6 linked regions of the Homo sapiens genome follow. The protein of the gene in region 4 purifies or fractionates together with the protein of the main gene of each other region. This does not show direct contact. Each region holds a gene or a part of one and is shown on either strand. Other genes may lie near its edges.

What was found.
Region 1: the proteins of NTPCR (region 4) and WDR19 purify together in Homo sapiens (affinity purification with mass spectrometry; one large-scale study listed by BioGRID and IntAct). This does not show direct contact.
Region 2: the proteins of NTPCR (region 4) and NBEAL2 purify together in Homo sapiens (tandem affinity purification; one large-scale study listed by IntAct). This does not show direct contact.
Region 3: the proteins of NTPCR (region 4) and PAX3 purify together in Homo sapiens (affinity purification with mass spectrometry; one large-scale study listed by BioGRID and IntAct). This does not show direct contact.
Region 5: the proteins of NTPCR (region 4) and POLD3 purify together in Homo sapiens (tandem affinity purification; one large-scale study listed by IntAct). This does not show direct contact.
Region 6: the proteins of NTPCR (region 4) and WDR35 purify together in Homo sapiens (affinity purification with mass spectrometry; one large-scale study listed by BioGRID and IntAct). This does not show direct contact.

The regions. Positions count from the first base shown.
Region 1 is NC_000004.12:39,188,354-39,193,063, reverse strand, and holds part of WDR19 (WD repeat-containing protein 19), read right to left. Parts: intron 3,409-4,710; coding exon 3,283-3,408; intron 1-3,282. UniProt on the Homo sapiens protein: As component of the IFT complex A (IFT-A), a complex required for retrograde ciliary transport and entry into cilia of G protein-coupled receptors (GPCRs), it is involved in cilia function and/or assembly.
Region 2 is NC_000003.12:46,985,602-46,990,311, reverse strand, and holds part of NBEAL2 (neurobeachin-like protein 2), read right to left. Parts: intron 2,323-4,710; exon of another isoform or gene 2,265-2,322; coding exon of another isoform or gene 2,235-2,264; intron 1,951-2,234; exon of another isoform or gene 1,867-1,950; intron 1,644-1,866; coding exon 1,555-1,643; intron 1,471-1,554; coding exon 1,342-1,470; intron 1,228-1,341; coding exon 1,146-1,227; intron 1,053-1,145; coding exon 931-1,052; intron 802-930; coding exon 719-801; intron 644-718; exon of another isoform or gene 1-643. UniProt on the Homo sapiens protein: Probably involved in thrombopoiesis. Plays a role in the development or secretion of alpha-granules, that contain several growth factors important for platelet biogenesis.
Region 3 is NC_000002.12:222,295,893-222,301,263, forward strand, and holds the start of PAX3 (paired box protein Pax-3), read right to left. Parts: upstream 3,107-5,371; 5' UTR 2,724-3,106; coding exon 2,639-2,723; intron 2,482-2,638; exon of another isoform or gene 2,255-2,481; intron 1,322-2,254; coding exon 1,086-1,321; intron 1-1,085. UniProt on the Homo sapiens protein: Transcription factor that may regulate cell proliferation, migration and apoptosis. Involved in neural development and myogenesis. Transcriptional activator of MITF, acting synergistically with SOX10.
Region 4 is NC_000001.11:232,953,152-232,957,861, forward strand, and holds part of NTPCR (cancer-related nucleoside-triphosphatase), read left to right. Parts: intron 1-2,405; coding exon 2,406-2,568; intron 2,569-3,195; coding exon 3,196-3,292; coding exon of another isoform or gene 3,293-3,296; intron 3,297-4,710. UniProt on the Homo sapiens protein: Has nucleotide phosphatase activity towards ATP, GTP, CTP, TTP and UTP. Hydrolyzes nucleoside diphosphates with lower efficiency.
Region 5 is NC_000011.10:74,626,604-74,631,313, reverse strand, and holds part of POLD3 (DNA polymerase delta subunit 3), read right to left. Parts: intron 2,100-4,710; coding exon of another isoform or gene 2,098-2,099; coding exon 1,991-2,097; intron 1-1,990. UniProt on the Homo sapiens protein: Accessory component of both the DNA polymerase delta complex and the DNA polymerase zeta complex.
Region 6 is NC_000002.12:19,933,766-19,938,105, forward strand, and holds part of WDR35 (WD repeat-containing protein 35), read right to left. Parts: intron 4,182-4,340; coding exon 3,978-4,181; intron 2,601-3,977; coding exon 2,454-2,600; intron 1,839-2,453; coding exon 1,706-1,838; intron 1-1,705. UniProt on the Homo sapiens protein: As a component of the IFT complex A (IFT-A), a complex required for retrograde ciliary transport and entry into cilia of G protein-coupled receptors (GPCRs), it is involved in ciliogenesis and ciliary protein trafficking.

The sequences.
Region 1 (4,710 bases), on a different chromosome or scaffold from region 4:
TTAATCTTTTTTTCCTTTTTTAAAATAAATGCTGTAGCCGCAATAATGTGCCTCTCAGATTTCCCTCCGTTTGCAGAAAGTGTAACTGCCCATGAGCCCCAGCTGCTAGGCTTTGGAATCCATCACCTCAATGAGCTGGGCTGTGCTTTCTCATGGGCTGTTCCCAGACAATGACTGAGTGAGGGAGGGATAACTGCTGGGCCCATTCCTGGGCAGAACTCCTTTGACAGGTAACTTTTGCCCAAAGACTCCCCACAGACCTAGCTGAACTTTCTTAATTAGAACTGTGCTACAATTTAATGGGCTGGGCACGGTGGCTCACGCCTATAATCCTAGCACTTTGGGAGGCTCAGGTGGGCAGATCATCTGAGGTCAGGAGTTCGAGACCAGCCTGGCCAAGATGGTGGAACCCCATCTCTACTAAAAATACAAAATTTAGCTGGGCGTGGTGGTGGGCACCGAGCTACTTGGGAGGCTGAGGCAGGAGAATCGCTTTGACCCGGGAGGTAGAGGTTGCAGTGAGCCAAGATCAAGCCACTGCACTCCAGCCTGGGCAAAAGAGGGAGCCTCCGTTCCAAACAAACAAACAAACAAACAAAAAACAACTGTGCTACAATTTAAGACACTTCTTCCCAACCTTACTTCTTTCCCTCTCTCATTTATAAGGGTCAGACATGCACTGAGGTCTAACAGCTCTTCCAATCTCTTCTAACCTCTCTATGTTCCCTCATAGGCATTTCCTGTAAGAAATCTCTTACACAGTTAATCCTGTCTTGGAGACTCCTTCAAAGAAAATATGAATAAAAATAATTTTGCATGAGCTAAAAATAGTATCAGAGAAAACTGTATAACAAGAACAAGATCTGATCAGCAACAGTGATCATATATAATAAGATAAATATAACATTAGTCCATTCAATAGTTTATCAGCACTGACAGTTACTCAACAACCAACTAGAAAGAAAGTGTTAAATAATGTGTTCTAAGAAGATCAAGTAATCAAATGTTCTCAAAAGAAGAGCTAACTGAACAGACTCCATCCCTATTCTCTTAGGATATAAGGCCCGTAGAAACCCTTGCAAATTACAATATGATACTAAAGCATATGTAAATTTCCAATAATGCCATTGGATCAGGACAACATATAACAATTACATGTATCTCTGGCCAAGCAAAATTTAAAGAATATATCATGCTAGGGAAATGTACAGGTTACAAAAAATTGCAACCTATGTATAAGGCATGGGCTTAAAAGAATTTTACTAATACGACAACTCAAGGTCAATTTAAAAAGACACTGAGTAGGATACCTAGTACTCAGGTCCAAATTGCCTTGGGAGAAGCAACCATGTTCTGTGATCCATCCAAGAATGAACTGGTTGATGAAGCAGATGTTATGTATAGGGTTTTCTCTGGAAAGAAATGGCTATATCCCAGTTACATAATTAAATGACTACTTCTGTTAGGCCTAGGCAGGAGCAGAGTAAATACCGCTATAATTCTAAAAGAGTATAAATGCATACATAGCAAAAATAAATGAATTCAGCTCATTGAATTAATATATTTTTAGTTAAGTGGCACCACAGTAAGTTTTGTGATAATTACATTTGGATAGGTTTTGGGTACTATTTCAGGTGTTTGAAGTGCTCAAAAGACTCACTTCAGATAAATTTTATAAAACCTAAATTGCTTAAAAGCATTTATTTACTAAGGAATAACAACCCAGAGGAAGCAAGGTGGTCATGTACAACAGGACCTTCTTAAATAAAAATACTTAAGAAAAATTGATATTCCAAGTTTTGTTTAATAACTAGCTAGTGTAACAGATTGACCTTTGAATAAAGAACAAACAGTGGGTATGCTTTTGTATATACAAAAGTCCTTTAGACATTAAATATAAACATCAACAGTAAAGCAACCTTAATTTTATTTTAATGACAATTACGATAACATCTACCATTTACTTGGGTCTTAATTTTATGCCTGGCCATGACATATATTTAAACATCACAACAATCCTGAGATGATGTGGAGAAACAGACACTGTGGGAAGACAGAGAGCTGGAGGCAGAGATAGACCAGTTAGAAACACCAGGGGATTAATTATGCACTTTGCTCTGAGTGAGAACATGGCCTTACTGTTGCTGAATTTGGCTCAAGAACCAGTACTTGAAGTTTATTAAACTTTCCCTTGAATGGAAGCACAGAGAGTATATAAAATCTTTCTGAAAAGTGATGTAAACCCAAAGTGTAAGAGGACAGAGCAAGAAATGAAGGTTCTTAGACTCAGGAAGACTTTACATTGGTAGACAGTATCTTCTGCAGCTACTTGCCTCAACGGTCACTTTGGAGGGTCAAAGGCACTACACTCACTAGGTTGTATCTGATCCTGCGCTACATGACTGCCTTGCTTTCTCTGGGTTCAGTTATTCCTTAGTAAATAACTTGAAAACTTATAGTCTGGTCTCATAGCGTGTATATGATCTCTTCCTCCCCACATGAGGGGTACATGAAGCCATGAAGCATGTTATACCCATGTCATACAGATGAAGAAATTGAGGCTTGGAGAGGGGTTAAGCAATTTGTCCAAGGTCAAAATGGCAAAGTTTTAGTTGGAAATGCTGACAAGTTTTTCTTTTCCATATTGGAAACTGGTTTCTCTTTTAGCAGATATCTGTCATTTATTCTGTCTGCCCAAGATTTTTTTCCATTTGGGAACTGCCCTGCCCTTTGCTCTTCCTTTCACTTGGTGGGAGTACCAATCCATGGCCCTGCCTACTCCACTCAGAGACCTGCTGAGGAACTGAATGGGCTCTGGTGATGTCAAGGCACATGCTCTTTTCTCTGGCATGACTTGCTGTGAAGAATGATACATACTGATAGCTACCAGTAGTCGTGGGTGAGAATCTGATTTAGAATAAAGTCAATATAGAGAAAAGAGGAGCTGAGAGATGGAGAAAAAGTCTTGATTGCACCATTATAACTCCTAGATCTAGCCATGCCTATGGTCAAGCCCATCTCTGGATTTTCCCATATATATTTTGTCTCATCTCTGCACTTCTTAGTCTGTTCCACTGAAAGCAACTTTTTAAGAAGCTATTTATAATTCACAGTTATAACAATTTCATTCTAATTGGGTAACAATAATAAAAATAATCCTTTTCTATGAAAATAACTCATTGAGGAATCTTTAAAATGAAAGTAGTAAAGAATTGTTAGCACCAAACCTACAAATATTCATGTTTCTAAGTGAAGCTTTAAAAAATTAAAAAGTTATCTTACCTCATGCCATTGTCTAACTGGCTGGTCTTATTTGTGTTGGCATCCCAAAGATAAATGCAGCTAGATTTCTCAGCAATCACTGCTAGGACATCTCCATCTTTATCCCAATCCATGGCAACACAGTTACTTTTAAAAAAGAGAGCAAAATACCACTATACAGTTTTTTAAAGTAAAATTACTATTTGTGATTTTTGTCTATAACAAGATTATTCAATCTATTTTGAACAGATAATAAACTCTCTAAAGTGAGAAATACAACTCATTATTCACTGCATGGGTAATGTTAACTTCAATTTTTTTGCTGTGGTTGAGGGGACGGTAAAATTTAAAATTTTACTTTTAATACCATTTTCATATACTACATTAAATATAATCATACTTAAGTTAGCAGATTTTCTTCAGTCCTATAAAGAACCCTGCCTTTTGATAAAACAAACTCGCCACGCACCTTTACAAATGAATCACATCTGGAATCGAGACATAATTTGTATGATCAACTTTTGAAAGATTATTTTAGATTGACAGAGAGGACAAGAAGGTATTGATAAGAAACAAAGTGGCTGGGCGCAGTGGCTTACACCTGTAATCCCAGCACTTTGGGAGGCCGAGGCAAGCGGATCACCTGAGGTCAGGAGTTCGGGACCAGCTTGACCAACATGGAGAAACCCCGTCTCTACTAAAAAATACAAAAATTAGCTGGGCATGGTGGTGCATGCCTGTAATCCCAGCTACTTGGGAGGCTGAGGCAGGAGAATCGCTTGAACCTGGGAGGCAGAGGTTGCAGTAAGCCAAGATCGCGCCACTGCACTCCAGCCTGAGCAACATGGCAAGGTCCCATCTCTACCAAAAAAAAAAGAAAAAAAAATGAGCTGGGCGTGGTGGCATGCACATGCTACTCAGCTACTCAGGAGGCTGAAGTGGGAAGATTACTTGAGCCCGGGAGGTAAAGGCTGCAGTGAGCCATGTTTGTGTCACTGTACTCCAGCTTGGGAAACACAGAGAGACCCTGTTTCAAAAAAAGAAAAGCAGCAAAGTTATAGCTAGATAAATTGAGTGATTGGGTAGATATAGGATTGTAAAAAAGGGAAAGATAGAATTCTAAAGTGGTGAATAAGAAATGTTATTTTCTTTTCTTTCTTTCTTTTCTTTTTTTTTTTTTTTTTGAGACAAGGTCTGGCTCTGCCGCCCAGGCTGGAGTGCGGTGGTGCGATTATACTTGGCTATAACCTCACACTCCTGGGCTCAAATGATTATAGTTCACTATAACCTCGAATTCCAGGGCTTAAGCGATCCTCTGCCTCAGTCTCCTAAAGTACTGGGATTACAGGTGTGAGCCCCTGTGCCTGGTCATTATTTTCATTTTATATCTTGATGGAAAATAACGAGAGTAATTTGATTAAGGTAACAACATAGTTATAAACAGGAAAT
Region 2 (4,710 bases), on a different chromosome or scaffold from region 4:
GCACCCAGGCTATGGGAAAATAAAGTCGAGGAGCTCCCTAGGGGTGCCTCCCCTCCTGGAGTTGCTGCCCCAACTCTAGATCCAGGCCCACAGCTCCATGGGGGCATCACTGAGACATTTAATATCCCAATAGGTCACCACCTTTTCACAGCCCTGCCCACCTCTGTCCAGGCCATATCCCACCCTGAGCCTATCTAAAGTCCTGGCCAGTCTCCCTCCAATGAGAGGAGAGAGGGGACCCAGGGGTGGAGGGTCACCAGGGAGAACAGGTTCACAGGACCACCTGTGAACAGGCAGCCACAGCTGTCCTGGGCACCAGATCCTCCAGCAGCCAGGGAACAGGAGGTGGAGATACCTCCTGTGTCTCCGGGATGGGTGGAGATGCGTGGAGGCTATGGGGACAAAGGGATTGGACCAGAGAGTTTTAAGATCACAGTAGGGTACAAGTGGCTAGAAGGATCCAGGAGATGGCGGGGAAAGAGGATGAGAAATCTGGGTAGGCAGGTTGACCCCACCCCTCCACCTGATGGGAGGCCCTCGCTCCAGCCCAAGATGTCTTCTCTTGTCTCTGTCCCTAAACTCTTGCTTGGTCTTTGGTTCTCCCAGTCCTGCATGCAGCCACCACCAAGTGGTTCCTGTGTATGGCAGGATCAAGGAACGACAGGAAGGGGCCTAGGTTTGGGGGTGGAGCCAAGTGGGGGCAGGGGCGGGGCCTGACCTTGGAAGAAGGCGCTGAATTCCTGGGGCAAAGCAGCAGGAGGGAACTTGTATTTGCTCTTCTCCTTGGAGCTGATGACTTCCCTGGGGGCAGTGAGGCCAAGTACATCAGCCCGGCTCTCACCACTCCTGGCCGTCACCCCTCCTTGGGCCCAGCGCGGCCATCCTCTCCCCACCCTCCTCTGGGTTCCCTTCCTGTGGGCTGGGTCTCACCCACTGCGCTGGCGCCGCCAGGTTTGGTAAGGGTCAAAGAGGCCCTCGCAGAGAAGCAGAGCATGTAGGGCCACATTCTCCAACTGCGTGCCTCGGCCCTGGGGTGGTGGGCATCCTTTCAGCTGTAGGTGTGGGGAGAGAGGGTTAGCCCCGCCATGGCTACCGCCTGCCTCCCTGCATACACCCTCTGCCCCCCAAGGTAGAGGCCACTTCACCTCCGCCACCAACTTGGTCAACAGTGCCAGCACTCGGGGCACTAGCACTTGGCCCCGGCCTGCCTCTATGTTCTCCAGGTTCCTGGGGGAGTCAATGATGAGAGAGGTCACAATAATACACCATGCCCCTCCTTGTCCCCTCTCCCTCTGGCCCACAGTTCTAGGCCCCTGCTTGTAGAGTGGACAACAGAGACACCTGCAGAGAATGATGAAGAGCTTGAGCAGCAGGAGGGCTTGCTCCAGGTCAGCCTGGTGCAGCTGTTCGGCCAGCACATGCAGCTCATCCAGTGGTAGCAGCGGGACCTCTGCACCTGCCTCCTCTGGCCTGCAAGGAAAGGGGAGACACGGGTGCTGAGGACCCCTCAATCTCCCTGCTCTGTCCCTGCCCTCAGTGCAGATCCAGCCTCACCTTCGTGGCTCCAGAGAGGACAGTGAGATGCTCTTCTTGAAGGCACCTACAAAGGCCTTCAGCCACTGCTGCAGGTAACCCAGGTCCTTCTGTAGGCAGAACAGGGGAACAGTGGTGGGGGGCAGGAGGGATGCAGTAAACAGGGCAGGGACAAGGGGATGTAGACAGAGGCGAAGAATGAATGGAGGTGGACAGAGGGCATGGACAAGGGGTTAAAGGCAGAGTGGAGGGTGTGGAGAAGGGGAGTGGGGGACGGGGGAGGGAGGGCAGGACATTGGAAGGTCAGCATCAGAGAGTTAGGTACATACTGACCACTTTTCCAGGCACCCCACTGCTTCTCTCAGCCTCCCAGTTTCTGCTCCCACCTCCCTAATGCCTGCAGTCCTAGGCAGGTCTGACACAGCCAGGGGAGGGGCGTAAGTGGGGTGTGGCTGTGGCCCACACTGGTGCTAGGGCTGGAGAAGGTGTCCCACACAGCAGCCACCCCCTACCAAGAGCCTTGGGCTGGGTCCTCATCTGCCATCTTCACCCAGCCCAGCAGCCACCACCTTCAGTAGCCTTCTTTAACTGTGGATCCCAGGACACACGTGTACCATTAGACAGGCAGACCCAGACATGCGCACATCCTCATGTGCGGCCCTGCCTTGCCCCGGGAACCTCCACCCACCCTTGCTGGTTACCTGGACCCCAGGCCCCAGAGCTGGTTCCATGGGCAAGAGGGGCAGTGGCTAAGCCCAGGTCTAGGCGCTGCCAGGAAAACTTTGGTGTGAACGGGAAATGTCTCCTCCCGCCCCGGGGCTGGGGCAGGAAGCGCAGAGTCACGGTGGGGGAGGGGGACCGCTTCCTCCCGGCAGACCGCAGGGATGTGGGGGGGCCGGGGCACCCTGGGCCCCAGTGAGAGAGGCTGCAAGCGACCTGGCCTGCACAGAGGGTGGGACCTGTTACAGAGGGGTGGAGTCACCTGTCCTGGGTGGGGCTTGTGGGCCAAGACTAGTTTTACAAGCATGAGGTTGGCGCCTGGAAGAGCTCTTATCCAGGTGAGGGTTCTGATCCTGCTGCTGCAGTACCCTTCACTTAAGGCACCCACAGCTCCCTGACCTGCGCGCAAGGCCTCAGGCCACAGGGGTCGATGTAGAAGACTCAGCCATACCTTTGTCCCGCCCCGCCGCCCGCCATGTCCTGGCCACCTCATCTGAACTCTGCAGTTCTCTTCGCTCAGGAACACAGCTGATAAATCCTAGCCTAGCCCGTATCTGCTCTAATCTCTAAGCCCCTCCCAGGGGCCAGGGGTGGGTTGTGGCTTATACAGGAGCTCCTCCAGGCTGGCCCCATATGGAGCTCCTAACCAGCTGAGTCCAAAAGGCAGCCTTCTTTCCTAGAGTCAGAGAGGTGGACAGGGGGAGCTAGAGTGGAAAAGGATGAAGAGGCAAGGGACACATCACAGTCAGCACTCAGCAGGCCTCAGGCTGCTCCCCAGGGGCCATGGGCCTCATACCCAAGGACCTCCAGAACTATCTTTGGATGGATGGCTAATTTTTGCAGCCTATGGGCCCAGACCACGGGCAAGGCCTGAATGGCCCCAGGGCAAGAGGCCTGACTGCAGCAGACCTGAGCCAGATCCCCAAAAAACCTAGGCAGAGCAGCCGTCCACCCTGTGATTGGGGAACTCCCTGGTACAGTTTAGTGCAGATCTGAAGCCCAGACAACTCAGAGAGGTGCCAGGGCCACCATGGTGCAGACCCACACAACCATGACATTTTGTCTGTCAGTTACATTTATTGACCTCTCCACCCTCTCCTGCTGGCAGCCTCCTCCCGAACAATCAGCAAGGAGCCCAAAATACCCAGATCCTGAGACAGCAGAGGTGGCCAGGGGCCCTGGACCATTTCTTCTGAACCTCTCCCATTGCAGATGGGGAAACAGGAGGCCCCACAGGGGATGCCTTATCTACTACTTTGTCTTCAGTGTACCTTTGAGGATGCTAAAAGCCAGACCTTAGTTCTAGGCCAGGACCACTCATGATTGCTAGCAAGCCAGCCCATGAGGACCATGCGGGCCCCGATCCTTGCCTCAGTGGCCCCACAGAGACCCCTAGCTGCCTTCAAAAATGTCCCAATACTGTCTTCCTCTCTTCTGCCCCTCAGTCAAGCTAGTCACTCAAAATGTGAGTCTTCCTGCCAGCTGCAGCTCTACTGAGCACCTGAAAGCCCAAATTTGACCGTGTCTAACCCCTCCCCATAAAGGCTCAACTGCTGAGCAGCATTCCAGGCTGCTGGTCCAACCAGAACCTGCTTCTCCAGCTTCCACCTCTCCCCCTCTGTGGTTCACATCCTCCTATCCAGGCCTTTTCCCACCCTATGCCCCACTGCCTTGTGTGACTTGGGCTTTTGGTACTTGAGCAGGAACCTCCCACCCTCCTGGTGGCCATCACCTTGATCAGCCTTCCCAGCACAGGGGTGGGTCCCTCAATCTCTACATACTCCTAGAGTATGTAGATAGTACTTTCTGTCCCTAGAACCACACCCTTGGCCTGTCCAGTCCTGTAAACTTTCAGCAGATTGGGCTGAGCTGGGTTCAGGGCTGGGACAATCAAGACAGCCTTCAGGGGCTCTGAAAGGGGATGACGAGGTCTCCAAAGCACAGTATTAGGCAGGGGTGGGGTGGCTGCCTGTCCTGCCTCCCTGGGTCTCACTGTTTCTCCCTGGAAGACCTCAGGCCAACTCTGACCTAGGCCCCATGGCTTGAGACTGCAATGTGTCGGGGTACGGGAGTCCCTCAGGGAGCCAGGGTCAGAGGGCAGAGAATGGCAGGGGACGAGAGCATGGTGGCAGTGCTGCATGTGAGGGTCCAGGGCCTGGGAGGAGTGGCCATGATGCTCAGGCTTCCCATGCCCCTCTCAGAGCTTCTGCCTTGGTCGGTTGTGCCAGCTCTGAGCAGGAACACGGGTCAGGGACAGTCCAGCCCCTTGCCCCAACCTAACTGGGTCAGGGCCCCAACCCTGTCCCCCACTGAAGGCAGGTCGGGAGCAGCCACACCTGCCAAGCCCTCTCCAGGGTCCATAGGTAAGTGATGCCCAGGTCCTGCAGCAGGGGAGAAGGTTGTGGGAATGTGGAAGGCCGGTGTCCCTGGGAAGAGGGGGTCTCATGTGCACCACCA
Region 3 (5,371 bases), on a different chromosome or scaffold from region 4:
GACAACCGGGATAAATTCAGAAGAATTATAACATCTTGATGGGGGTAGGGTGGGGTTATACTTTCTCATCCCTGGAAATAAGGCAACTGCTTACACAGAACCAACATGAAAACGAAACTAAAAAAGCGATGTTTGAAAAAGGAGCTGAAAAATCAAGTTAAATCTGCAACTTGTGCTTTTCCAAAGGGATATTTATGCTAAAGTGAAGACTGAAATGTAAAGGTATGTATTTGGGTTTTTAAAACTTCGAGTCGATAACAAATATTAATTAAGAGAGACTGACTCTTCTCTCTACCCCCAATATATATTTTTTAAAAAGAAGAAGAAGGTTCCAAAGATTCTTAGAAAGGCTGTGAAAGTGTTTCAGTAGGTGGGAAGGAAGAGGAGGGTGTTTGGAGGTCTTCGGTTTACCATAACCCTCTTGATTTTGCCCGGTGGCAACTAGAAGAAAAGACAGACCTTGTGTAATTCCCTCCCACTCAGCCCTAGCTGGTGTGACTCTTTCTTTTTAAAAACAGAACCAAAAATAATTTAAGGATAGCACCAAACTGCTTATTTTTTTTTAATGGAGTCATTGGCTTATTACAAAGAAAACTGATCACCCTAGTATTTGACTCATTGAAAACAATTTGCACTGGGGGAGACTGAGGGCGGGGTTTGGGAGACAAACCATTATAAAACCTAAAGAAGTTCCTTACATTCGTTTTGGAAAGGACGGTGCCATGGGTGGGAGCCGGGAAGACACTTAGGGAAGAAATCGGCAACAGGTGGGCACATAGAGCTTGCCTGCTTTAGGTGTTTATCCATTAAAATAATTTGATGAGGATTGCAAGGCTTATGGGCTTTAAAAAACAGATGTTATTTTTCCTTTGCAAAAAGGCAAGAGCTTTCCCTAAGTGTTCATCAAGAAGTGTCCAGGGCGCGTGCACACGTACACACACACACGCGCGCCTTTACGCACCTTCACAAACCTCAGAAATAACTCATTGGAGAGCCCCAGATGTCAGCCGTTACCCCCCGCCCGGTCTTCCCCAACACAGGGGACCACAGTCTGGGAGCCAGGAGGGCAAGGCCCGCCCGCTCACCTTGGGCTTGCTGCCGCCGATGGCACCAGGACGTATGGAGCCAGTCTCCTGGTACCTGCACAGGATCTTGGAGACGCAGCCGTGGGACACGCGCAGCTGGCGCGAGATGACGCAGGGCCGGATGCCGTGGTGGGCCATCTCCACGATCTTGTGGCGGATGTGGTTGGGCAGCGGCCTGCCGTTGATAAAAACACCGCCGAGCTGGTTGACGCGGCCCTGGCCGAGGGGAGTGGACACTGTGGGAAGGTGAAAAAGAGAAGCAAGGGAAAAGTCACTGGAGGAAAATAAAAAGCAAAGAACAGCAGCACGTAATTTCGCAGTCTTCTGTCCTATCCTCATGTTACAGCACCGACGCTGAAACTGCTCGACATCGGACTCCCAGACCCAGACCTCCTTTCAATCACATTTGTTCAAATTATTCAGCAATATAGCGCATGTAATCTTGTGTAAAGACAGCAAATGGGGCAAAATAATTCTCCCCAGAGAAAGCGTCTTCCCCTTCGGGCCCGGGGAGTGGCAACTTAGGAGACCCTGCAGCTGGTAGAGAGTCTAGCTTGCTCTAGAAACAGCCTCCTGGCGAAGAGAAGTTCACCCAGGAGCTGGCCTTGATGAACTCTGCTCCCACCGATCCCTGTCCAATTGGGATCTCTCCCTTTCTAAGGGACTTGGGCCAGCTGATAGCCCTTGGGGTTTCTAGCCAAAAGTGCAGCAGCCAAGGGTCAAAGAGGGTCCAGAAAGGAGGCCCAAGCAGCAGTGCCTGTGTCACCTGTTACATCTTGGGACAGAGACCACAGCAGCGGCAGGGCTGTTCCTGGGCCCCCAGCCCCCATTCTTGCTCTGGGTGTTACATTCTACTCTAGGCTGGGTGTGAAGGGAGTGGGTGGCGGGGGCGATGAGCATCTCTGCTGGGGCGCCCTAACCTGGAAAACCATTGAAAACGGCTCAGGCTTGCAAGACTTCCTGCCTCCCCGGGATTCCCAGAATCTTCAAGTGGACGGAAAGGCGATTCCTAAACAAGTTATAGAAACTTCTAGATGCTATTTGAGATACATAGAATTCTAATTTATTTAATTATTCTAAAAATTCCAATCACAATGGCGCGGCGTTAGCCACCACAACTTTGCAGGGCAAAAAAAAAAAAATACTTCCTGAACTAACATATGTTTCACAAGTGTGGGCGCAGCCGGGACAATTTCGAGACAACTTCGAGACAATTTCGAATGGACAAATTGCGGAGAAGTTGCTTCTGCCGCTCAGAAGCCGGTTCACCTCCTTCTCCACCGCGGCATTTCCAAAACAACAGGGACAAGTCTCCCCGGCTCGCCGCAGGCCTGACCGCCCAGCTCCGCCAGGATTTGCAGAGAGCAGCGCGCTCCATTTGCAGAAAGGAAATCGAGTAGGTCCTCGCCCCCGACTGGTGCTTCTTGGGGTGTGGGGTGCCCAGGGAATGGGCTTCCTGGAAGCACCAAAGGAGCCTGCGGAGCCTGGGGATGGGGTGAGGCAGCCGGTCCCAGGCCCTGGGATCCAGGCGGCGCGCTGAGGCCCTCCCTTACCTTCCAGCGGGAACCCGCTACGCGGGTAGTTCTGCCCCGGGCCCGGCCGCATCATCCTGGGCACAGCGCCGGCCAGCGTGGTCATCCTGGGGGCAGCTTCGCTCGGAAATTATATCCAGGTGAAGGCGAAACGGAAAGGCGAGTGCGGCGCGGATGACCCTCGGGAACTATCCGGAGCGTGGAGAGCCCCTCCCCAAAACGGCTGGAGAGAGAGGGAGGGACGCGGGGAGGGGGGCTGTCGGTTCCTAGTCCAGAGGCCGGAGCTGGAACCCGGGAAAGGGGAGGACGGGGAGGCCCCGGAGTCCAGGATCCCGAGCCCAGGGCGGAAAAGTTTGGTACGAGTCTGGGCAAATGTTCCAGCGACTGGGGTCCCTGAAAAGGGGGCTCAGAGAGCCACGGCGAGCCGGGGAGCCTGGTGAGGCTGGAGCGCGGCCTGCCTGAGTCTCCTCCTGTGGTGACACCGAGTGCGGGGATCCGGGCTCGGGAGCATTTATTAGTTCTTTTACCCAAAGCTTGGTCAGGAGCCCTGAGCTGCGATTGGCCGACGGGTAGACCGTCCCGGGTGGCGGAGACACGCGCTGATTGGGCAACAGCGACCACTTTCTCTTCCCATCTCTGGTGGTGCCGAGGCCTCTGCTGGCCCCGAGGGGGACCCGCGCTGCGCCCCTTGCCCAGGAGAGAAGGTTGGCCCGGTGGAAACTGAGAGAGACAGCCCCAGGGAGATGGCAGTTGCTGAGGGCGGAGAAGTTCCTGTCTCTCTGTCTCTGTCTCTCTGTCTGTGTCACTCTGTGTGTGTGTGTGTGTGTGTGTGTGTGTGTGTGTGTGTGTGTGTGTGTGTCTTTCTCTGATCACTCTTTCCTTGACTTTCTATTTCCCTCTCTGTCTCTTTCTGTGCCTCTGTGTGTGTGTCTCGCTCAGCCTCTATTCCTCTTGTGATTTCCTGTGTCTCTCTCTATGTCTCATTTTTTCTACCTGTAGGTCTCGCTCTCATTTCTCTTGGCTTACTGCCACTGGAGGGGGCACAATTCCAATAAGAAGGCATCTGGGGCCCCAGACATATTTAGCTTTCCTTCCTGTGGTCAGTGCCCCTTGGCCTAGGCTTGTTAAGGGGTCCTCCCGATGGGGCTCCTCCTGGGAGGAGTCCAGGGTGCGCTGATGTTCTTTTGTCTTCTCCGTCCGCAAGCGGGGCTAATGTGAAGCACAGGCAGCCGTCGCTAGGCCCAAGCACTCGTTAGTTGAAGGCTGGGGGTATGGGGGAGGGTGCAGAAAAAAACCTGGCTCCTCTTCTTGGTGTAAAAACCGCTCTGGCAAGCTGCGGTTCTAAATCTCTACATATAGATCCCCGATGCGTCGACAGAGATGTGTCTGTATGTTAAAGTTTTGCCCGGGTTCAGCGTTTGTTCTCAGGAATTTATTATGGCATTCAGACTAAACTGCTGGAAAAATAAAAGGAACGAAGTCTTGGCTAGGAGCTGAAGTGTCCCCAGCAGGATATGACGCCAGGAGTGTTGTAAAGACTGTCTGTCCTTAGAGAAGGTACCATTGTGCATAGCCTTTTATTTATAACTTGGTAAGTGCCAGCGAACTCGCCTCCTTTACACCCCCGAGTGCCAGCCCCGCGCTCTGCACTGCGCTTTATTCGCTCGAGCCTATTCAGGGACTGTCACTCCGGGGCCGCGAGGTATTCAGGGCCTTAATCAATCAAAAGGATGAGAATCGGGCAGGTTTTTCCCTTTGAAATAAAGGAAACAATGACTTCTGGGCTTCAAGTTCCCCCTTTTCCTTTTATGATTTTTGAATTTTTCCTGCCCCTGGAGGGAGTTCTCCACTCCTCTCTCTCTGTCCCCCTCCCCCACCTCCTTTGACAGTTTTGACGTGAACTCGGGCCCCCAACCCTACTTCCCCATTCCCTAATTAAGGCAAACTCAGAAGGCAAGATGTAGGGGGGTGTGGGGTATAGCCGCTCAGCAGTCCACAAGTTGGCCCTTTAAAAACCCACTCACCATTGGGGAAACCAGGCAAGCTTTCAGCCTGCCTGATGCCAGAAGGCTTGGTTGACCCTCAGAGCCACGGAGACAGGTCTCAGGAGACTCCCAGAAATGTCTGGACCCATGAAGGAGGCATGTGCCTTGTTTAACCTGGTTTTACATTAAATGATTCAATTTTTCAAGGGGAAAATTTTCTCATTTTCTTTTTAAGGCGTTGGGGCCACCAAAGCCTGTGTCCGTACGTTTTAAGCCACTTCTCAGCGATAGCATTTTGAGAGCTAGACTTTTTCCAAGTTTTCTTCTTCCCAAAGGTTAAGCAGAGTCGACAGAGCACTTTCTGGGGTCAGCGGTAATTGCTGTGTGAAGGAGGTACCAGAAGTGTAATTTCAAGAAGGCAAAAGTAGGCTCAACTCTCAGCTAAAATAAACTCTTGGACCCCGCGAGCAGTTAAAGAACATCTAGAGCTGAGTCTCATTTGTTTTTGAGCCGGAGGCTTGGTCTCCAAGCCCTCCCAGCGTCCACCCGTCTCTCTCCTGCCGGGAGTTTTCTCTCCTAAGAGCCGGCAGATGCTGGAGGGAAGCGCTTGCTGCAAGATTCCTTCTCCCGGTCCCGTAGATTGCAGAGTCCGCGGGACCGTTGAACGGAGGTACTGCCGGCTGAGCTGGGTCTTAAGTGCCCATGGGTTCATAAACTAGCTGTCACTTGCTATAAACATGTACAAATGGAGGCCACAAGGATGTGGGGG
Region 4 (4,710 bases):
TTCCCTTCCCTTTCTGAATTTCTTCCCTGCCAGTCCATCATGTTGTCACTGCCCAGGTTAAACTACCTGCACTTGAATCTTTATCTGAGGATCTGCTTAGGGGAGAACCAGAACCAAAATAATTCCAGAGCTTTCTGATCTGTTTGTGCCTGGTATACAGCTATCATCTCGAGGTCTCCTGAAGCAGAGGTCATTTCTTATCCAGACAGCATTGGGGTAGCAGCTTAACTAATGAAGAAAAAATTAACTGAAAGAAGATTCCTAGAGCTGAAGAAGCCAAAAGGGACTTTGCCCAAATGCTTCCTATTTATTGCTCTACTATGTTCTACACAACATACAGTCCCCACAGTATACCCTTTGTGAACAGGAATAGTTACCGTTGCTCCATTTTATCTTTTTCAAAATATAAACGGCAATTTTTGTTAGGATAAGAGTAAGACCCATTCAGTATAAGAATTAAAAAAAACAAGAAAAGTTTAAGGAAGAAAGTGACAATCACAGGGAATTTGAACATCAGAAATCAACATTGTAAATCTTTGTTCTGTATTCTTCTTGACATTTTTTTTTTCTGTAGACACGTACTTGACCATTCTTTAAAAAAAACATAATGGAATGGTTTCTGCTATTAACCTGCTTTTTCCATATATTATTTTCATACATTGTGGTCTATTTTCCATGCTAATAAATACATATAAGCAGTATATTTTTTAATGGTTGCATGGTATTTCTGTGTATTTATGTGCTATTATATACATGGTGCCATGAGTTAACATTCCCTTACAATCAACATTTAGGTTGTTTTCAGTGTTTTGCTATTATAAAGAATGTTGCAGTGAATGTCCTCTTTCACACATTTGTATTGTTGATGTTTCCTGAGGATGAATTCCTAGTCATGAACTACAGGGTGCTGTGGCAGGCGCATTGAAATTGCCCTTCAGAAAAGAAGTAGCAGCTTACACATTCGGCAATGCCATTACTTGCATGAAACAGATTCTTTAGTGACTTTCCTAAAGCAGTTGTTACTGATGGCCAGGGCTGGATTAGAATGTCATCATTTTATGTTCTACACAGTTCTACCAGCTGCATGCTCACTGTGGCTTACTGTAGCCAGAATCCTGTTGTGTTGCTGTTCATGTTCCAGAAAGCCAGGTGCCATTATTTTAATGTGAAGTGTGAAGATAGATACATTAAATAAGAATAATGGATCATATTTTATGTCAAGGAGGCTTAAAAGAGTGGGTAGTCTTAGAAATAGCATGATTTGCAACTCTGTAGTATCTCAAAATAGCTCACTTGCAGACATGCTAGGAGTTTTCTCTCTCTTTCCATTGTTGGGTAGTCATGATGCCACTTACTTAAATCCATATTGGGAACAAGGCTCATATTTTAAAAAGTCATGGTGACAGGTAAAGTCCCCTGTTGAAAGGTATGGACCTTATGAGGGGTATAGCCTTGGGTAAAATACCTAACCACCATGTACCTCAGTTTCTCCATCTGTAAAATATGCATAAGGATGGTAATTGCCTCAGAGGATGGTTGTGAGGACTTAACCAAGAAAATGCTTCCAAAGTGTGCTAGAACAGTGTCTGGCTCCATGACGTCAGTGATGAGTATTACTATATTAGGTAGCACCTGTTGGTGCTTACAAACCAGTGAGTTCATCAGAGTAGTCAGCTGACCAGGCTGGATGGACAGGAAGGATCAAGGTGGGGAGGCTGAGGGGGCAGAGGTACATAGGTTCAAACTGGGGAAGGTGTGGGGGATAAAGGTGAAGAAATGCTTAGAGACCCTGGAGAAGATGATGTTGGAAGGAGTTGCTAACCTGATAGGCTTGCTGTTATGAAAAAGTTTGAAAGTGACCATTAACAGGGATGCTAATGATATTTAAGAGACACATTTTCAGGAGTTACAACAATGTAAGTCAAAGGAGGAACAAAGTGATTTTCCCACTGTTAAGTGTAGGTCCGTTTGTAATCTCTTGAAAGCTGAAATCTTAAATTCCCAGCCCCTGACTCAAGTGTGACCAGTGTTACTTCCTGGGCAGAAAAATGGGAACTGTAAACCATTTCACAGGATGCAAATGGCATGGGAGAATATCATCAGGAACCTCTCAGTTGATTCTGGGATTGTGTACGTGACAAAATTAACAATGTTTCACAATTTAAAAATAAACCTCAAGATATCATTCGTGTTTTTATTATGCTTGTTTCTACTTGAAATTAAGCATTTTTAGCACCTGGAGCAATCAAAATTAAATTGAAGTTCATATTCATAAATCCATTTACAGCCCATTTCTCTACCCACCATAATTGCTGCCTCAGAGTCCACAAGTGCTGTGTGTGCTCTAGTAAGGGAATGTTTCCTAATGGGCTTTTCTTCTTTTTTTTTTTTTTTTTTTATTTTAGGAGTTGGAAAAACAACATTGATCCATAAAGCCAGTGAGGTTTTAAAATCCTCTGGTGTGCCTGTTGATGGATTTTATACCGAAGAAGTCAGACAGGGAGGGAGAAGAATAGGATTCGATGTCGTCACGTTGTCCGGCACCCGGGGGCCTTTATCGAGAGTTGGGTACTGATATTTCATTTCTGTGGTGTTCTATTATCTAAGCTCCCCTTCCATCTGTGCTTTGGGAGCTTTTCAACAAGAGCTAAATTCACCAAAAGCAGATACTCTGTTGGGTCCTTGGATGCCCATCTGCTTTCCCTTTAGGTTGAGAGTGTCTCCCTGGGCACAGGGTTGAGCCAAATGTTGTCATCTATCCTCAAGAATCTTAGGCCTTTAGGGATTTCTCAGAGAAAGAAAACAGAATGAAACCATCACATGAAAAAAGTATAAGAAAGTGATATTTTACTTAAAACTTGTTCACCAAGTCATAAACTCCTCTCACTTTATAATTCTTAGTCCTGTTTCTGGTGCCACTTTTCAAAGACTGTTGATGCAGTAGCTGCTTGGACCTTAAGAGATAGCCCTGCCATAACTGCAAGGCCCATTGTTGGAGGTGTGGACACTTTGAACAGGGTAGCTCTGTTCAAAGCAGAGAAAACCTGATCAGCTTTACAGACCACCGCATTTTGTGTTGGTCATTTTTAAGGATGATTTAGCATATGTGGAATGCCAGAGGCTCAGTGGAGCAGCTAAAAACCAGAAATCAATACAGGAGTTTTTCAACAAAGAACATAATGTCTTTTCCTTCAGGTTAGAGCCTCCACCTGGAAAACGTGAATGCCGAGTTGGGCAGTATGTGGTCGACCTGACTTCTTTTGAGCAGTTGGCACTACCCGTCTTGAGGAATGTGAGTACGTGATTTCTGCTTTTTGAACCCATCTGCTCTTAGTGTATTGTGGGAATTGCTAGCCATGGAAACAGAATGCCTTTTGCTCTTAAAGGCCCCAGTTTTGCATTTTACAATTGAAAAGATTGAGTCTTAATAAGGATAAACAACATAATTTGCTATCACTCTGAGCTACAGATAAATTCCTATAAATTCAGTACATATAAATATTTTATTTTGGAAAGGCTCTTGATGCCCAGGTACCAACATTCCCAAAGATAAGTCTTTCCTCTGTCTTCTCACAGTCATGTCTTAACCTGGTTTCACAGCACAACAAACATTTAGGAAGAGAAAATGTCATTATATGAACATAATAGCCAGTTGTTATTGAATGCCTACCAAGTACTGTAAGCAGTTAACGTATTATATTATTATATTACCTTTTTTAAAAAAGAAAAAAACTTTATTGACATCTTACGGCTTCTTTCTTTCTACTTTGAATGCCTTTTATTTCATTTGCTTGCCTAATTACCCTGGCTAGAACCTCCAGTCCAACATTGAATAAAAGTGGTGAGAGTAGACATCCTTATCTTATTCCTAATCTTAGAAAGAAAGTATTTAGTCTTTCACCATTATGTATGATGTTAACTGTGTCTTATTTGTATAGAGTTTACTCAGGCGTATTTTGTTGAGGATTTCTGCATCTTTATTCACAAAAGATATGGTCTGTAGCTTTCTTTTCTTGGGATATTGTTGTTTAGTTTTGGTATCAGGTTAATACTGGTCTAATAGAGTTAGGAAGTGTTTCCTTCTTTTCTAATTTTTGGAAGAGTTTGTGAATGATTCGTATTAATTTTTCTTTGAATAATTGATAGAATTCACTAGAGAAGCCATGTGGGCTAGGTTTTTCTTGGTGAGAAGCTTTTAAATTACCAATTAAATCTCTCCTTATAGGTCTGTTGATTTTGTATTTTTTTGTTGAATCAGTTGTGGTAATTTGTACCTTTTAGTAATTTGTCCATTTCATCTGAAGTATCTAAGTTATTGGCATATAGTTGTTCATAGATTCACCCATAATGCTTTTTATTTTGTAAGATTGGTGATATTGTCACTTCTTTCTTTATTTTAGTTATTTAAATCTTCTCTTTTTTCCTTGGTCAGTCTAAAAGTTTGTCAATTTAGATGATCTTTTCAAAGAACCAGCTTTTGTTTTATTGATTATGTAGTTTTATGTATCTATTTATCAGATATTTATCAAGTACTGCATATACAGTCATGAACAAAACAGACATGTTTCTACTCTTTCAAAACTGTTAGTCTAGTGGGAAAGGTAGACACTAAGTAAATTTATACTTGTCATGGTCATTAATGCTGTGAAAGAAAAGAACAGGGTGCTATGAAAGGGAGGGACAGGAAGAACTGACTTTAGACCAAGGGAC
Region 5 (4,710 bases), on a different chromosome or scaffold from region 4:
TCACACAATAAGTGGTCAAGGTAAAATTTAAACCCAGGTCTGCCTGACTCCAAAGTTCTTGTATTTTCTCTACTCCTGCTGTTCCTTTTCTAACTTCTGGCTGAAGACAGCATATTGAACTAATATGACATATTCAGTGTAACAGAAATAAAGCAATAATAAGTTAAAGACTGTGTAAAGGTTGAAAATAAAATCCCACTGGCTTTGATACAAAGATGAAATTTAAGAATAAAATGTCAGAGGTTTATAAATTTAGTCAGATGCCAAAAATTATCTTTGCCAGAGGAAAAAAATCTAAGAGCTTCTGCTCTATATCATCTGTTATTATAGGCTGTGTACCTCTATTGCATTTCTTCACATTCCTTTCAAAACTAAATAACCCCACTCACATTTCTAATCACCCAACAGTATTATTTTTGTAGGCTACAGATCAGAACTATAGGGAATATTTCAGAAGGATATAATGAGTGCTCAACCAACCATAGTCATTCCTTAACTTAGAACTGACTCCTTTACTAATACTAGAGTATCTAGTTGATAGCTTCAAAGACCTTTCCAAAATCTTCCCAAGGTCTTTTACTGATTGGAAATAGGGAAGACTGTTCCAATTAGCACCTATTCCTACATTTACTTCCTAATTATTTTCCCATGTGTCTACATGGAGTTGTTCCTTTCAGCAGCCTTGGCCAAAGCATTTTGATAAATGACAATGGAATGAAAATACAGCATTTGCCTCTCTGGGATGCTCACGTGTCTTACTCCTACCCATTCTAAAGAGCCACTAAAACCCACGGAAGGACATTGTACCTCTCACAGGATATCACAGGCTGTAATTCTAAACACATAGCATGAATGGTAGAATCTAAATCCACAGAAGTGTCAAAGATGCTACACCTTTATCACAGATTCAGCTTCCTGCTACTATTTCTTGGGTCTGTTCATTTCTTTTGCATTACTGTCAACTGTATATATAATTTGTTTTTTTTTCACTCACTTGTATAGTTGAGCTAATATCCTTTTTTCGGAAGCCTCTCTTACCATTTTCAATTCCTCTTAGAGTAGTTTCTGGAAAAAGCAGAATCTTACAAGTTTCAGAATCTTACAAGTTTGTCCTTTGATAGCTCAGTAGGTTCCTTTTTTGCATTCATTATTCTTCTTTACTCTCCCTTTTAGTATCTGTTCGTGTTTGTCTCTGTATCTTTATGTGATGCTGAAATCCTTTGGACTAGATTTCCCCTCATTACTTAAAATGTTTTATACCCATTATGCCATGAATTCATGGACAATTGATTAGAGCAGTTCAAACTTTTCACCACTGTGTCTCAAAGTGGGCTTTTCAAGGTAGAGTCGTCCAGCATATCAGTTCAACCCATTTAACTTTCTTTTTAGCCTCCTTCTTTTTCTATATACTTTATACAATTTGGGGCAAGATCTTGGCTCTTCAAAATACTTGATATTTTTTTAAAAGCATATTAATGTTCCCGGTAAAACTCTTGCCCTTATGAGGTTTGCTTATCTTACAACATTGCCCACAGCCTAAAACTAGAAGGGTCCACAGTGTCATTCCCTTCTAACAATGACACTGTAGGTTGTTCCAGTTAACCCTAGTTTTACCTGTGTGGACCACCACCAGTAATACCCTGGCTGCCTAGAACGTCACAATTTTTAAAAGATTCACATGAAGGTAGCTAAAGGAATATCCTCCCCTTAAAAGTAAAAAAAAAAAAGAAAAGAAAAGAAAAAGTCTTAGATAATATGTATAATAATAATTCTTATCCTCTTTCCTTCTGTGTTATTTTGACAAATTTCCAAAAGATCATGGTTCTAGTCAAAAGGCTAATGCAGATTTCAAACAGAAAGAGGTGCTATGGTGTCTCTTAATGCTAGAATTACTACTCTCATTGTGATCCTTAATCCATTACTTTTTTAGCTCCTTGAACATTGAAAGTAAAATTGATCCCCCTAACCCAAAATGAATGGTAATGCCCACCTTCATCTTCACTGCTATCAGATTCAGGAAGTTTGATTCTTCTCCTCTTTTTCCTCATGTTTTCAGTTTCCTTTGTCTCATCATCAGATAATGCTACTCGCTTCCCCCTGTTGCCATCCAGAAATAAATTAAGCGTGTTACACAGAACAAAAATGTAAGTATTCACATGCTCTTATGGGTTTTGCTTTATAACTCGTGGTCTTAATTCCAGAGGGTAGAAAAGGACGGCCAAATAGTCCAAGAAGGACTCTTGTTAAGGATACTCTGCTAACTGACCACAACTAAGTCACTTCATGAGGTGACTTGAATAAAAAAGTTCTAGAGTTCTCTAGAGACTGCTGGAAGCTACAACCAGGTTATCAAGAATCTTTCCAAATTCCTTCTTACTTCCCTGATTGGCCTTTCAATTATCCAACAAGCATTAAATAAGCAGCTACTACATACATACAAGGCTCTTTGCTAGCCATTGAGAATGCAACAATACAGAAGAAAATACTGTTTTCAAGAAGCTCTGGCAAACACCACTGGCTATAAGGCAATGTGGTAGATTTAACTGGACAAATAAAATGTTATGGAATATAATTCATATTTGGAAAACTTAAAAGCTAAGTAGAAGTTCATCATGTAGAAAGGGGAAACATATTTTAAAGAGAAAGAACAATATGAGCAAAGGCAGAGATATCCTTTTAAGGTGATTCTAATGACATAATAATAATAAAAAAAATCCTAGACTCCATCATGACATTATTTAGCTCCTCTGGATGAATGGATACTCCATCACACTCCTCATGCAACCAACAAGTAATTTATCAAAGGCCTACTGAATGTTAGAGAAACAAATATATACAAGACATAATCTTTGCCATCAAGTACCTTATGTCCTATATAACTTTAAATACCAACTTTCCTTTCTACCTTGAACTAGAAAAAGAACAATTAAACCCAAAGTAAAAGGAAACAATAAAGATAAGAGCAGAAATCAGTGAGATAAAAAATAAGAGAAAATTAACAAAGCCAAAGTTGTTATTTTTGGGAGATTAATTTTATTAATAAGCCTTTTATAAAACCCATTTTGAAAACAGAAAAATATAAATTATCAATCAGGAATGAAACAGTAAAGAAATCTGTATCGAGTACAGGTTCTACAAACTCGAAGAATAAAGTTATATAATGAACGGGTTTATGCCAATAAACTCAACAATTTAGATCAAATTTTGACTGAGTTTTAAAAACACAACTCAGTCAAAACTGATCCAAGAAGAACTAGAGAATTTGAACAGCTCTAGTTAAATCAAATTCACAATAAAAACCTTTCCCACAAATAAAATCCAGCCCTGGATTCACTGGTAAATTTTATTAAACATTTGAAAAATATACACGTATATATAAACTCCTTCAGAAAACAGAGGAAACTTCTCCCAACTGCGGTCATGGATCACTTAATGACAGGGACATATTTTGAGAAATGCATTGTTAGGTGACTTCACTGTGTGAACATCACAGAGTATACTCACACAAACCTAGATGGTATAGTCTATGCTCCTAGGCTACAAACCTGTACATCATTGTTACTGTACTCAATACTGTAGGCAACTGTAACACAACGGTATTTGTGTATTTAAACATCTAAAAAGAGAAAAGATACAGTAAAAATACTGTATAAAAAAGATTAAAAATGGTACACATGTATAGGGCACTTACCACGAATGGGGCTTTCAGTACTGAAAGTTGCTCTGGCTGAGTCAGTGAGTGAGCGGTGAGTGAAATGTGAAGGCCCTAGGATGTTACTGTACACTACTGTAGACTTTATCAACACTGGATACTCAGGCAACACTAAATTTATTTTAAAATGTTTTTCTTTCTTCAATAATAAACAGCTTACTTTAACTGTATTTTCAATTTTATAACTTTTTGGCTCTTTTGTAATAACACAGCTTAAAACACAAAAAATTGTACAGCTGTACAAAAATATTTTCTTCTTTATATCCCTATTCTATAGGCCTTTTTCTATTTTAAAAATTTTTTATTTACTTTTTAAACTTTTTTTGTTGAAAGCTAAGACCCAAACACACATTAGCCTCGGCCTACACAGGGTCAGGATCATCAATGATCATTGTCTTCCACCTCCACATTTTGTCCCACTGGAAGGTCTTCTTCAGGGGCAGTAACACACATGAAGCTGTCATCTCTTATGATAACAATGCCTTCTTTTGAAATATCTCCTAAGGGCTGCCTGAGGCTATTTTACAGTCAACTTTTTTTATAAGTAGAAAGACTACCCTCTAAAATGATAAAAAGTATAGTGCAGTAATTATAGTAGCATAGTCATTTTTATTATCAAGTATTATGTATATATAACTATTAATATATATGATATACTTTCACATGACTGGCAGCACAGTAGGTATATTTATACCAGCATCATCACAAACACGTGAGGAATGTGTTGCGCTACCATGTCATGACAGCTATGATGTCACTAGGCAATGGGAATTTTTCAGCTCCATTATAATCTTACGAGACCACTGTCATATATGCAGCCCATTGTTGACCCAAACATCGTTATGCAGCGCATGAGTAATCTTATGAAGTTAGCACAATTTTGACACAGCAACTTGATAAAGACATTACCAGAAAAGAATGTAACTGACCTGTAGACCTCATAAACACAGGCAACAAATGCTTAGTGTAATATTAACAAATCTAATCCAGCAATATAT
Region 6 (4,340 bases), on a different chromosome or scaffold from region 4:
CTTATCTCAGTTCAGTAGCTAGTATACAGAAATGTCAAGCTCCAAAACAAATCCCCCACCAGTGGGTGAAAAAAGCCTTTATATCAATTGGTGGTATACTCAGTGCTAATTATTAACTAGAGACTTAAGGGAAATCTCACATTCACAGAGCCCTCAAATACCTCTATAAAGAAATGTCCTAGAGAAGTCTGCCATTAATCAGTTCAGGAAGCTAGACCCAAAACAGAGCTCTCTTGGAAAGTGGTGGCAGCGAGGAAGAACCACCACCACCACCACCACCACCACCACCACCACCACCACCACCACCACAAAAAAAAATCCTACTTGTTCAGCTGCACTGGCCATTTTCAGAACATCATTTTTTTTCTTTCAGAATATCTAATTAGCCAGAGGTTTTCCCTCCCCAACCCTTCTACAATATGTTTGGAAGTATGAAAGTATATTTTATATCCAACTTTTAAAACAATGCTTATATTTTTCTGATTATAAGGGAATACATTCTATCTGTAAAAAAAATTACAAAACATGAAAAAGTGAAATTACTCATAATCTTATCATTCATAAGAAACCTCTCTCAATACTCTGGTGCAATTTCTTAACATCTTTGTCCTTTGAATATATATGTATATGTTTGTGTTGTACACAATCACACAATACACAATTTTGTATCCTGTATTTCCTACTTAAATATTATGTACACCTTCCCATATTATTAAAAATTCTTCTATAACTCTATTTAAAATTTATAATACTAAAATTTTTACTATTTTAGTTATTTAATTATCATTATAGTTATAATTACTTAGCATTTACTCAGGAATATTACTATTCTGGATACCCTACAGCAAAATGTTTATCGGCATCATCAGACACATCTAACAGACAACACTAACGGAGTATACACTCTTCCCTATACCCAGGGTTCTAAGTAATTTCAGTTTCTTTCCTACTCAAGAAAACCCATAGGATTGAAAATAAGGGTGAGTGAAAATACCATTATTACAGAGATAGCCGCTCAAATTCACAATAGGGAAAACTGAATTACCGTAATTCTATACTTATCTATTAACTAATAGGCAAAATTTTTGAAGCAGAACTCACAACTGATATACATCCAGACTCTGCAGTTGAGAGCTGCTAGCTCTACAAGTATTGTACGGCTCAGTGATTCACATATTAAACACATAAAATACAAACTTATTTACAGTATTCAACAATTAATTAAGAGGCTCTAAAAGAACATTTGAAAGCAAGAGAACTCTTTCCATTTCTCTTTTAACTTGAAATACTTTATTGTTAATATAACATAATAAAAGTTGAGCTATCTTTTTAAACTTAAGTTATAGCAAATTTCAAACAATTTCAGATTATTTTGAAGCAAATCCCTAGCAACATATCATTTCATCTGTAAATATTTCATGTATTCAGCTAACATTTAAAAAGTAACTTTATAAATCTTAACAGACTACACAAGACTGTGATCATATTAAAGTAGTAAGAATGTGACTGACTTTTCCTCCTCCATTTTCAAGCATTCTATATTATTTATATATTACTTTATAATTAAAAGCATCATTCCATGTCTAAGAAACTGTAACATTATAGATTTTTAATTTTCTTTATTGTGGGAGATATTTCCTGACTATAACATAAAATTTTATAAAGTAACCTAACAATTCCAAAAACTAAAATTTGCAATACCTACTGGAAGTAACTTGTGGTTTTCTGGAAGTGAAATGGCAAGGTTCTCTAACCCTTCATAATCCTCTAACATATAGTAACATTCAGCTAAGCGTTCCTGGTTCCGTCCTTGTACATAATATTGTACAGCATTCAACCTACAGAAAGAAAAAAGGAAAAACTTTTAAAACTAATGTGAATCTCCTGATAAATAAGCACTTTCAACCAAAATGTTCCTTCATCATAATTCCCAGTACTAGTATTACTGTTCATTATCTTCAGCTTCAGAATAACTTTCAAACATATAAATGGGGAAAAAAATCTAAAGCATATTCTAGTTGTAACATTCCTTGACTATTCTTAAGAAATACCACCGCTTTACTCCCAAACACTGACATAAATAAGCATACTAATCAAAATGAAAAGAAAAGCCAATGATTTCTGAAAATAATATATAATAAAGCAAATAAAAACACTTATTAAACTTTGTTCAAAAATAAAACATAAAACACCTTAGAATTATATACTGTAGGCTCAAACAGAAAGCTGCATGGAGCTAAGTACAAGTTTTGTGTTTATACACTACAAATTTTTATAGTGCTCATCTCACAACTTCACAGGATCTCCGGCTTTCCAAGATGAATCTAGAGCTATCTGAATTTTAGAATTCAAGAAAATGATCTTCATTTCCCCAGGATTACTTCCTAGAGAAGTACTCAGGCAGCTACTAAGTGTTGCATGAATGCTTGAGGAGCTCCAGGTAAGTTACATACCACTTTTGTCGATCAGCAAAGTAGTCTCCAATGGCATTGTTGGCTTGTTCCAGGAGACTGTCATCTGCATCACCAGATCCAGTTTTCAGGAGCTGGAGTACTCTAAACCAATCCCCCAATTTCAGCCGGAGGCCAATAGCAAGATCCCTACAAACAAAGGCATTCATTCATTCATTCATCTATTTGACAAATATTTACCAAGAGCCTGCTGTGTGTTAGGTACAGTTCTAGGTGCTGAGGCTACACAGCAGTGGACAATGTGACTCTCCAAACACTTTAGGAACTTAGCCTGACTAGCTAAGAGGAAATGAGGAGCACCTGGAGGTTATGGTTTGAATGTGTGTCCCCTCCAAAATTCATGTTAAAACTTAATCTCCATTGTGGTAGTATTAAGAGGTGGGGTTTCTGGGAAGTCATTATGTCTGCCCTTATGAATTGATTAATGCCCTCATAAAAGACTCCTCAGAGAATTTGCCCCTTTTGCCCTTTTCACTTTCCACCATGTAAAGGCATAACATTCAAAGCACCATCTTGAAAGTGAGACAGGGCCCTCAACAGACACCAAACTTGTTGACGCCTTGATCTTAGACTTCCTAGTCTCCAGAACTGTGAGAAAAATATTTCTGTTCTTTATAAATTATCCAGTCTCAGGTATCTTGTTATAGCACCCCAAATGGTCTAAGATACCAGAACAGGGAAAAGAATGTTGTGCCTTTACTTTCCTGGACTTTCAATTTATTTAGCAAAATAATGATTTAAATAACAATCATTTCTTTTCAGCAATTTCTTAGATGTGATCAGGTTTATTTCAAAACAAAACACAGTGTTAACACATGTGGTTTTATATGACTTTTCAGAGCCTAAGTCATATTAGAGATCTCCTGGGAGTATAAATAACATTAATGAAGATGAGATACAATCTTAACAGCTGAAATGAAGTTCAGACAGACTCTCCGCCTTGTGGTTCAGTGGCTAAGATTATCTGCTTTCATAGCAGCTGCCTGGGTTTGATTCCTGGCCAGGGAGACAGGCCTTACAGTTCTTTAATTCAAAAGAAGAAATATTTATGAAGTTCATACATTATTTTATATAAATCAAAAACGAAATATAAAGAACTAATCTCGATCCCTAACGACTTCTGATTTTTATTTTATGCCTCTTGACAACATAAAATTAAATAATGGCCTAAACAAACAAAGAAAGAAAGAACTGGAATAATGAGCTATGTCTTAAATATAAAAGATCCCAGTCTCTGTTGTTCTATCATTTTTTCCCATCAAATGAAAAAAAAACCTCCCAGAGTCAGCCATTATTAGATGTAAAAACAGAGAAGAAAACTGCCTCCAGACTATGAAACACAAATGAATGAGAGGCATGTAGAATATCTAGGTTGTAATCCAAACTTAAAATTAATTTCTAAAAGGAACCATATGATACACCTAACGTATTTATAGTTTCCATTTGTAAAAAATACAATGATGAACTGATAGAGTACTCAGGGATGCCTGCGCCTTCATAACTTACCTTCTGTCCATCTCGAGATACGTTCTTTCAGCCTCTTCAAACCTGCCGAAGTAGCCAACAACTTCAGCCTGTTTCATTGACTCACTCAGTAGTTTGCCCAAGCGCTTCACAAACTTAATGCCTTGGTAATCTTTGCAGCGCACAAATGCTTGCTCTGCAGTGTATAGATCCAGTTTCTGAAGAGCTGCTTCAGCCAGTAGGCGCCTTTATTTTAAAAGAAACAAAAACATAAGTGCATATTGCAAATTACTGACAAACTAGTCTTGAATCACAATTCAATTATCATTTATGTCTATTATTTCTAGAGAAACATGGTGGAAAGTAACATATGCAAACATTTTTCAAATAATTTTCTGCTTATTT